3 linked regions of the Homo sapiens genome follow. The protein of the gene in region 1 interacts with the protein of each later gene in a pairwise test. Each region holds a gene or a part of one and is shown in the gene's direction. Other genes may lie near its edges. The genes, in order: FGF14, MAOB and H4C7.

The links.
Region 2: the proteins of FGF14 (region 1) and MAOB interact in binary tests that used the Homo sapiens proteins (3 or more experiments, as listed by UniProt).
Region 3: the proteins of FGF14 (region 1) and H4C7 interact in binary tests that used the Homo sapiens proteins (3 or more experiments, as listed by UniProt).

What each region holds. Positions count from the first base shown.
Region 1 is NC_000013.11:101,728,219-101,731,974, reverse strand, and holds part of FGF14 (fibroblast growth factor 14), read left to right. Parts: intron 1-3,756. UniProt on the Homo sapiens protein: Probably involved in nervous system development and function.
Region 2 is NC_000023.11:43,880,584-43,884,339, reverse strand, and holds the start of MAOB (amine oxidase [flavin-containing] B), read left to right. Parts: upstream 1-1,889; 5' UTR 1,890-2,040; coding exon 2,041-2,086; intron 2,087-3,756.
Region 3 is NC_000006.12:26,245,995-26,248,966, reverse strand, and holds H4C7 (histone H4-like protein type G), read left to right. Parts: upstream 1-1,970; 5' UTR 1,971-1,989; coding exon 1,990-2,286; 3' UTR 2,287-2,356; downstream 2,357-2,972. UniProt on the Homo sapiens protein: Core component of nucleosome. Nucleosomes wrap and compact DNA into chromatin, limiting DNA accessibility to the cellular machineries which require DNA as a template.

The sequences.
Region 1 (3,756 bases):
TCAGGATTGGCAAACTTTTGGCAAAGGACCATATAGTAAACATTTTAGGTTTTGTGAGCCATAAAGATCTTTCTCGACCACGCAGCTCTGAAATTTGTAGTGTAAATGCAGACACAGACAATATATAAACAAAGGAAAGTGCCTGTTTTCCAATGAAACCTTATTTACAAAAACAGGTGAAAATTGTGTTTGGCCTGAGAGTCAGTTTGCTGGACCACTGGATTAGATTCTCAAGGTCACTTTCAATTCTGAGGTTATGGTTTTGCCAGATTATCTGAGTTATTCATTCCTGATGAGTTATGGAAGGAGAGCTCCTTCCAACCAGAAGTCTCTCTTTGTACAAGCAAATGGCCCATCACGGTATTTTCCTAAACAAAGGCATTTCCCTCAGAAGAGGAATTCTGCTGCTACTGTTAAGATAATAAGTACACCACAGATGGTGCTTTCATTTCAAAAACAACCACAACATAAAAAAGATATAACATTTCTGTTTAATTATTGCATTTTTCTATCCTATGACTTGATGATTTAGTTTGGCAGTGGTGCAAATTAATATTCAAGCTTCTGCTGGAACTCATCTGTTGTTGATTTTGTTGTGGTGGGGGTGATGGTTCTAAACATAGTCAAGGAGGCAAGGTGAGAAAAAGATACATCAAACTCCTTATCGATCTCGTTTTGGCAGATTCAAAGAGTTTATATTTAAGCCTAAATTTAAATAAGCATTTTCATATTATCACTGCCAGTTTTAGAGAGTGTTTCACTGGCACAATAATTGTATTATCCAACTGTATAGCAACTATCAATTAGACTAGGACTGCCTTGAGAAGCAAAGTAGGGCTCCTCTTTCTTTGGTTCTTGCTGCTGTACATTGGAGGTCTCATACTGAAGGCTCACAGGCTTCCCTGTGGCCCCTTGACCCACTCAAGGTTGAAAAACAAAAACTAAGAAATAGTTGCCAATGTTAAAAGGAGATTATCTGTAGAAACTTACATTTCTTACTTCCTTTGAAAAATCAGATCTTCTAAAGATCTAAGGTTTTTATTTTCACAGGAGAACCATGTGAGGGACGGCTGCTTTTTTAAAAAAATCATTGCTTCTACCACTGTCTTCATCTCCTCACCACAGAGCCTGAGTCAGAGGCCATTTATCCTCATTACGGTGCCATGATCATGCCAGCTTTCCTCACTCCTGTATCTACCTGGTCATTAGAGGCATTTGAGTTTGTGGCCCGTGCTGTGCACATTATCCCTGGAGATCTCATCAATTACAATTATTTCCACCTACTGGACTTTAAGTAGTTCTACCTATTGGACATTTTCAATGCAATCTGTTTTCCTAAAGCATACTGCAGGATTGAAGCACAAAGTATGACTGTGCAATTACTCTCAAGAGCATTTTTGTTTATGTTGGTCAATGTCAGTTTTTTAGGTCCCTTATAAGGAAATACCTTTTAAAAATTCATGCCAAGAAACTTTTCATTTTCAAAAAGGAAAATATTTTCTTTCTTGAATAATTTTTGTAACATTATAGTCTTTCTCTTTTTGTCCTGGCTACCAGAAAGTTCAGAAGTCAGTGTGTCATAATCCTGATATTATTTCTCCCCTTACTTTGTGTGTTCTGGTTCTCTATTTGTAATATTAATACTAACTATTAACGTGAACACACATATACTCATGTGCTACAAACAACTTTCAGGTTCATTTTGTGAGAGATTAGGGTTGAAAACATCAGTACGACATGTTCTTAACTTTTCGAAACCATCCTCCACACTGACAACAGATTTGTATTTATAACATACGAATCAGGCCCTATTATTATTCCCTTGCATATTCAGGAATTCAACATGTCTTCCTCTCACTTATAAGACATCTAATTTGTTTATTAGAGTTTTCAAGACCCTTTATTATGTTTCTCAAACCTATCTTCCCATCTACAACATTCTCCACTTCTGTCCCACAAAGCGTGTATCTCAGTGATGAACTATTTACAGTTCTCCAAATGTACCAGGCCATTTCCCACCTCTTGCCTTTCACAATACCATTTATTCTCCCTATAATCACTCTAGTATTTTATAGGTAAGTCACTCATAACAAATATTATATTGTTCTGTCATTTTTCAGTGAAATGAATGACTATTATTTATCTTGGTATATTTCATGCTGAACCCAATATTTTGTGTAAAATGGTTTTCATTGACTAATTATGTAGCTGACTTTTGGTGAGATTTTCACAGAATTGAAATAACTGATCAGGATATATTTTTTACTACAAATAATGAGAAACTTTTAAAGAATAATTATTGAGTGCTCACTGTATACCAAGTTCTCTTCTAAATGTGTAATACGTATTTATTCACTCAATCATCCCAACTACCTTATTGCCCTATGATTTTTGTCCTCATTTTAGAGATGAGGAAACTGAAGCCCAGAGAGATTGAGTAATTTCCCCAAGAACACACAGCTAGTGGGGTCAGGGTTGAATCCTACTGTCTGCCTCCACAGGTGATGTTTATCTGCTCCATTGCTTCCCATTTACGTGTTGAAAGTATATCACTTATGACATCAAATAGCAACTAACCTCAACTTCCATTGGTTCTATCGGTTCTATAGGAAATGCTGGGATTATTTGAGACTTCAATATTGGAGGAACAGATTAAGTTCTCAAAAAGTTTTGAGAAAATGTATTAGACAATAACATCTTTGAATGTAACATGTGCATTTGTGTGTGCATTAATTATTTAGCCACAAATAAGAAGGCTGAAAATATACCAGTCTCCACTATCACAAGCAACTGAAGGCAATAGTTCTACAGAAAGAATCACCTATCTGTGAAGTCACGGGCACAGCTCACAGAAAGGTGCTGTGGAATTGACTTCTTTGGAGTCCTATGATGTGAACATTTCATCTGAAAAGATATAGTGTCAGAATCCTTAAGGTATCCACCGAGAATAAATTACTTCCTCTACATCAAGCATCTTCTTCTCTTCCATATTCAACACAGTGAATTCATAATGGAGACAATACATCCCTAAGTTGCTGATGGTGTTGCAAGCACCATTCATGTTTTGGACATTATGGCAGTGACGATCAGAAGAGAATCCTGTGGACCTACGTTTCTGGTGTTTGTAGCAACAGGATGAGCATCAGTGAGCCAGGTTCTGGGCAGAGACACCCGAAGCCCAGGAGGCAGAGCCAGATTCCCCTGACTTCCACTAAGTGACCCACTAAGTCAGCTCTCAGCATGTCACTCATAGCTGATTTTGAGATAGGTTTTTAACTGGTAAGCAATATGCTTAGGTGCCCTGCCCTGTCTCAGTAAAAAGACAAGTGAAATGCCAAAGTCTAATCCTTTTGTTTGAGAAAGTATAGTTTCAACCAATATATTTATTAGTCTCTTGGGGAGAAGCCAGATTTATAGCATTCCATTTTGTTTTACTCACAATAAATGCATGAACATGTACTGTTTTATCAATCTTTTTTTTCGGGCGCATGGCCTGGACATTGACTCAGTGGACTCTCATTTATTAGTGAGAAAACTAATTGGAGGATATATGGAGATGCAGAACTCAGTAGAAAGCCAGAACATTTATTTGGATGGGATCTTATTCTAATCTGAGGTAGCATCATCAAGAAGAAATAAAGATCTACATAAGTTGCTCCAGGAGGGGGCTAAACCTGTCATTTGGCTATTGTGATTTCATCAAATTGATCACTGTAACTGTCATCTTTGTCTTGAAAAGCATCTGCCACTAACAAA
Region 2 (3,756 bases), on another chromosome or scaffold:
TATTCAAAGTCTTAGATCCCCAGGCTCCTGGCTGACTTGCACTGTTGGAACTAAGCAAAAGAGATTCCAAGAAGATCCCACAAGGATCTCGTGTTAGTCCATTTTGTGCTGCTAGTACAGAATACCTAAGGGGGGTAATTTACATTGAAGAGAAATTTATTGTATCATGGTTCTAGAGTCTGCAAATTCCAAGATGAGATGTTGGCATCTGGCAAAGGCCTTCCCAATATGTCATCCCATGGCAGAAGGGCAATGAGGGTTAGAAGGAGCAAGAGGTCAAATTTGCTGTCTCAGGCCCTTTTTATAGTGGCATTAATCCATTCATGAGGATGGAGCCCTTGGAACCTAAACATGCCCCAACATTGTTGCATTGAGGATTGAATTTCCAACACGTGAACTTTGGGGGACACATTCAAACCGTAGCAGATCCTCTCCATTCATCCTACCTCACCTGGCACGTAATTCACTTGCAGGCTAGGTGGGGAGACAAGAGTATCCACAGCCAAGAAGCCCACAGCTTCAGGGACCTGTGAACAGAAGTGGACCAGATAGGGGATGGCAAGGAGGAGGTCAGCACAAACTGTCTGCAGGGTGAGGTAGCTTCATTCTCTGCAGTGGGGACATGAGGTAGGGATCGGGGTTCAGGCACAGGGTCTGACTGTTTTATACCAAAGCAGGACAGATGGAAGTCAGAGGTGGACAAAGACTTTTCCTGTCACCTGTGACTCAGTCACAGAAGTGCCCAAATTGTCTTCTGGTCTGAGGACAGCAGAAGCTCAGGATACCTTTCTAGCAGGTAGATACAGGGAATGGTGTGGGATGAGGCAGAGGTTTGCTTCAGGTTCTCATCAAATTCCCCAGATCTGAAGCCAGCCCCTCTCAGGCCTGAACAGAAGCACTTCACCTGTTTATTTCTTGAAAAGCCATTCTATGTTGCTGCTTCCCACTTTTAGTTCTCAGAGGTGGCTTTCCTACTGTCCAGAAGACATAAACTTCTGTTTTCCCTGGAGTCACCTTAGCTTAAACTCCTATAATCTTGTTGAATCATCCCTGTGTTTGGCTAAACCAGGCTCCTCATACCCACGTTCCAGGGTCACACAGGTAACTTGGCTTGCTGCTTCTGGGGGCTCTGAATCCCACAATGCCGATCCACCACCTCTTCCCTGCTGCCACTAGTCTCCTGGGGTCTAGCCTCAACAGCTTCCACCAAGGACACACTGCATTGCTTAAGAGTGTATTTAAGGTGCGGCATTTGTGATGCTAGGGAGGAGCCTTCCTGACTTAATCACGTAGGGGGAGTGGGGAAAGAAGTGGGTATTTGGAAGGAGGGTGAGGTGGGCTGGGAATGCCAAGAAATGGTAGTACTGTGTGGTGAATCAAAGTGGGTCTTGGAATCTTCCTAGCTTTTCTTTTCTTTTCTTTTCTTTTTTTTTCTTTCTGACTTTTTATCTTATGTTGTCACTCACCATGTTTTGTTTTCCTCATCTGCAAAATGGATTGTTGTAAGCTTGAACAGGAATCATGCATAAAGTACTGAGCACAGTGCCTGGTACCTTGAAATCACTCAATGGAAGTTTCTTATTATTTGCCCTACACCCAAGGAGTAATTGGGGCCCTGAAGGAAGACACCCCAATTTGCCGTCCTCCCAGCCGCCAAGCCTGATAGTGCACTAGGGAGGCTGATGGGAAAATACCGTGCAGAAGGCTGAGGAGTGGGGATTCTGGGGCGGGACTCTTTGAAGTCCTAGGTGACCTCTCCGCCCAGGCACCCGCCCTCCCCGGGCCTGGGCTGCAGAGCTGCGGGCGGGGGCGGTGGCCCTGCGCTGCACCCGGCCTGCCTGCGCGTAGGCGGGCGGGCGGGGCTGCGCGTCCGGGCTCCCGGGGCTGGTAATATAGCGGCTCGCCGAGGCGCTGGTGCACGGGGGCAGCGCGCAGCAGGCCGGCGGGCAGGCGGGCGGGCTGGCTGGCAGGCAGGACTGGGATCGAGGCCCAGAAAACGGAGCAGCGGGCACCAGGGAGGCCTGGAACGGGGCGAGCGCCATGAGCAACAAATGCGACGTGGTCGTGGTGGGGGGCGGCATCTCAGGTTAGTCGCGGCTGTGCGCCCTCCTTCCTCTTCACGCGCTCGGACAGGTGGCTGCCTGGGGGAGACGCGGGGGGCGGCCGTGGGGCAGGGGCTGACCCTGGAGTCCCCAGACTGTCCACGCACGGGCAGGGCTCTAGTGGGTCCAGAGCGCCGTGCACTGAACCCTCCTTTGGGGGCAATTTTGGGTGCGTTCCCGGACGCAGAGGCCAGAGGCTGGAAGCCTGTTGCAGCTCTGGGGCCAGACTTTGAACTTCTCCCCCAGAAGGCTGCTAGGCCTTCGCTTGCTGGAATTTTCGAAGCCAGGGAAAAGGGGTGGGGAGGTGGCACAAAGGTCAGTCATTTGCTCCAACTTGACCTGGACACTCCGCACCCTCGCTTAGAGCAAGCATGCACCACATCGTATTGTTGTCCTGGCGTCAGGAAAACGACCTTGAACAGAAGAGGTTGGAGCCTGGCCAATCGATTGCCAAAGACTTTCCAGGCCCTCCTGATTCTTTGAGGTTCTGTGATTGTCACGGATCTAACTTGAGGCTGCAGTGTCTTTTTGGCAAATGCCTGTTTTCCTCTTATGCCTCTCGCACCCCCACTCCACCCCACCCCACTCCTAGCGCAGGGTGGCCAAGCTGCAGCTTTGCTCTCTGGCCTAGCCCATATTTGGCAAGGATGGGGACAGACACTACCCCCTCAGCCACACGGGGCTGTGTACATACCAAGGGCACCGAAAAATAGAAGCCAGAAGAAGGGATGGGGGTAGTGGTGGAACTTACCCTCTGTGGAGGATCAGGCAGATCCTATGGGATAGGGTCAATGGGAATCAATGATGCTCTCAGCACAGCCTGTTTAATGGCCCCCTGGGCATGCTTTGGCCCACCTCCTAACGCTGCCTAGTACTTGAGCAGTAATTAGGACACCTCCAGACCCGTGGATGCATTGTCTAAGACTTGCCTTAAGGAGTTCTCAAGTGGCCTTTGGGAAGTAGAGGTTGGCCTTGCTCCCTGCCAGGAGGGCAGGACAGAGTTGTTCTGACTCTCCTGTGGCTGGAGAAAAAACCAAGGCATTGGATGTTTGGTGCTGACCATGGTCCAGTCCTCCTGCCTCTGCTCCAGCCTTTCTCCCCTTTGGGTGGGATCTCAGGCTACCACATCTGTCTAGCAGGCTCTGGTGAGCTCGCCCATGCCAGGCCCTGTGCCTGGTGTTGCAGGTACATAGATGCGTAATCACAACATGCTGAGGTTGGCCAAGGCTGTGTATAAATTCAGTTTTCTTTCAGTATTTTTGACATCTTCTCTCCTAGAGGAAGTTGGACTTAAAAGCATACCTACTTAGGTGTTTTAGAAAATATTACTAAGTGCCTCTTGATGCTGCCTTGCATAGCACCCCATCTTACAGAAGCTGAAGTTTCTCTTTTCAGGCCCCCGAAGTCATTTTCTCACTAAAGTATGCCCAATGGATTCAGATTTTTCTATTTTCCCTTCATGATTTGTCCCTTTCTGATTCATACTCCACACCTTCAGGTTCAATCACATTACTCATGTTAGACTCATCTGGAAAAGGTAGATAAGGGTTTAACTATTTTTGCAAGCAGTGGTGAAACCTCTGCATTCATCCTCCCGAACTCTGATCAAAACAAGGTACTGATGAGTAGATCTGACTTTTCTCAAGAACATTCC
Region 3 (2,972 bases), on another chromosome or scaffold:
GAATCACTTGAACCTGGGAGGTGGAGGTTGCAGTGAGCCGGGATCGTGCCACTGCACTCCAGCCTGGGCTACAGAGTGAGACCCCGCCTCAAAAAAAAAAAAAAAAAAAAAAAAAAAAAATCTAATTATTTCAAAATAATGTAGAAATAGGCTGTGATGGGATTGCTGCTTTTATTGCTTGGAATTCCATGGTTTATCAAGTTTGTTTGTTTGTTTTCCCCACAAATAGTTGTTTGCACTCTTGGCTTTTTGTTGTGGTGACCTGCTCATTAGGCCATAATTCATTTATGCAGTTACATGATTTTTTAGATATTGCTGACCCTGCTTCAAAAACCCATGATCTTTAGGACTGTTTGTTTGGTGCATCGTAACTGCACAATAAAAAATCCATTGTTATTTTGAACATTCTATTTTAGAGACATCATTTATTTCCACTTAAATGCTCTCGTTTAACTAGCTCAGCAAGTATTTTGTAATGTAAAAATTTAGTGGTGCTTATGTCTTTATTTTGGCTTGTGAGCAAATTCCCCTTTTCTCCTATTAACATTTATGACAGCTTTCCCTGAGTTTCCTGTTGTATCAACCCCAGAAGACAGTCACCCCCTGTACCTTCTGTCCTCCACATGAGAACAGGGCATGGAGCCTCTGGCAATTTACATTATCTTTTTTCTGGGCAATTCTTCATTGCTTAATTGTATAGTGCTTAATATAAGTGAAAGCACACTGAATGTATTGGTGTTGCAAAGGCAATGTTTTAAAATCCTTCGGTGTGCTTTACCTCTGCATTATTATTTTGTCTGTAAAAAAAGGCTGTGGCAATAAGAATTCGTTTACCAACTGGCCGGTGAGGTGGCTCACGCCTGTAATCCCAGCACTTTGGGAGGCCAAGGCGGGCGGATCACCTGAGGGCAGGAGTTGGAGACCAGCCTGGCCAACGTGAAATCTGGTCTCTACTAAAATACAAAAATGAGCCGGGAGTGGTGGCACATACCTGTAATTCCAGCTACTTGGGAGGCCGAGGTAGGAGAATAGCTTGAACCCAGAAGGTGGAGGTTGCAGTGGGCAGAGATTGCGCCATTGCACTCCAGCCTGGGCAACAAGAGCGAAACTCCGTATTTTAAAAAAAAATCATTTACTAACTATATGCCAGTGTTTTGCTTAAAGTAACTCAATTATTAACAAGTATTTACCCTTTTTACAGATAGGGCCATTGAAACTCAGATTAACATGTCTAATATCGGTGAGAGAGCAGTCACTCACAGATTCGAAACCAAAAACCAGGCTACTTCTCTTTAGCTGGGCGGCTTGGCAATATGATTAGGAATTCTTTTATGTCTTGGAATTTGGGCTTGTTTCAACTTCAGCATGGTAAATGCTCTAATATACAGGGAAGGAGTAAATCTTTTTTTTTTCTTTTTTGAGACGGGCTTCGCCCTTGCCCAGGCTAGAGTGCAGTGACGTGATCTCGGCTCACTGCAGGCTCCACCCCACGGGGTTCATGCCATTCTTCTGCCTCAGCCTCCTGCATAGCTGGGACTACAGGCGCCCGCCACCTCGCCCTGCTAATTTTTTGTATTTTTATTAGAGACAGGGTTTCACCGTGTTAGCCAGGATGGTCTCGATCTCCTGAGCTCGTGATCCGCCCGCCTCGGCCTCCAAAAGTGCTGGGATTACAGGCGTGAGCCACCGCGCCCGGCCAGGAGTAAATCTTTAAACACATACAGACATCAAAAATCGAGATACTTTCCTCTAGGTACATGTTTGACACTTTCGTTTAGAGATCCTTATTCTCTAAATGCCAGCAAATCTCCCTACTACAAGAGAATTTCTTATGTCTTGTTATTACTAGAAGTAGATGAGCGGGGACTGAATACGTTTTCCCGCCTTTCCTGGTCTTTCAGTTTTCAAAAAGGTCTACTCTACCGTTATATAAAAGGCTGCGGAAAGCGAGTAATCGTTTTGTTTAGAGATAGTTCTGACTTGTTTATCATGTCTGTTCGGGGCAAGGCCGGAAAAGGCCTTGGGAAAGGCGGTGCCAAGTGCCATCGCAAGGTACTGAGCGATAATATTCAGGGCATTACCAAGTGCACTATCCGGCGCTTGGCCCGGCATGGCGGTGTCAAGCGCATCTTGGGCCTCATTTATGAGGAGACCCGCCGGGTGTTCAAGGTGTTCCTGGAAAATGTGATCTGGTACGCCGTGACCAACACGGAGCACGCCAAGCGCAAGACGGTCACCGCCATGGCCGTGGTCTACGTGCTCAAACGCCAGGGAAGAACCCTGTAAGGCTTTGGCGGTTAAGTGAGGCCAGGCCTTTCCTTGCAATATCGTTAATGGCCCTTTTCAGGGCCGCGTACGTTTTCTTCCGAAGGGCTCACGTTTGACATTGTGGAAACTTAACTAACGCACTCAGCAATATTGTGTGTTTTATTGCTGTAGGTGCCCAAAAGCTGTTAGGTGTATAATGCTGTAAAGTATAAATTTACGCCAAGGCTGACATACAACATGGAATACAGGTGGTAAGTTAATCGTGTGTTCAGAGATTAGAAATCTGGTGGGCTGGCTGAGGACATCAACGGCTACATTGTCACTTAAAAGCTCTCAAAATGTGGTTATGGTAGTGTGTTTTTCTCCTTACTGTTAGGATTACCCTCCGTAATTAAAATTGTAGTTTTAGTGCCAAGATAACCCGACTTTTATATTCTGCTTAATAAGCAATTTCAATAACCAGAGAATACACAATAATTAGCACAAACTTGCCAGGTGCCGTTCTGACAAATGTGTCTGCAGTGGAGGGACTGGCCCCCTTGCTAGTTCAATGATCTAATTTAGCAGCACTAAAAGAAGTTTACCTGTTTCGTGCCTTTGCTTGTGATCCATCGTAAATATAGAAACACCTTGATAAGGTGTAACTGCAATAATTCGTGTCTCAATTTACTGTTTATGAAAGTACAGGGGTCAAAGAGCCAATT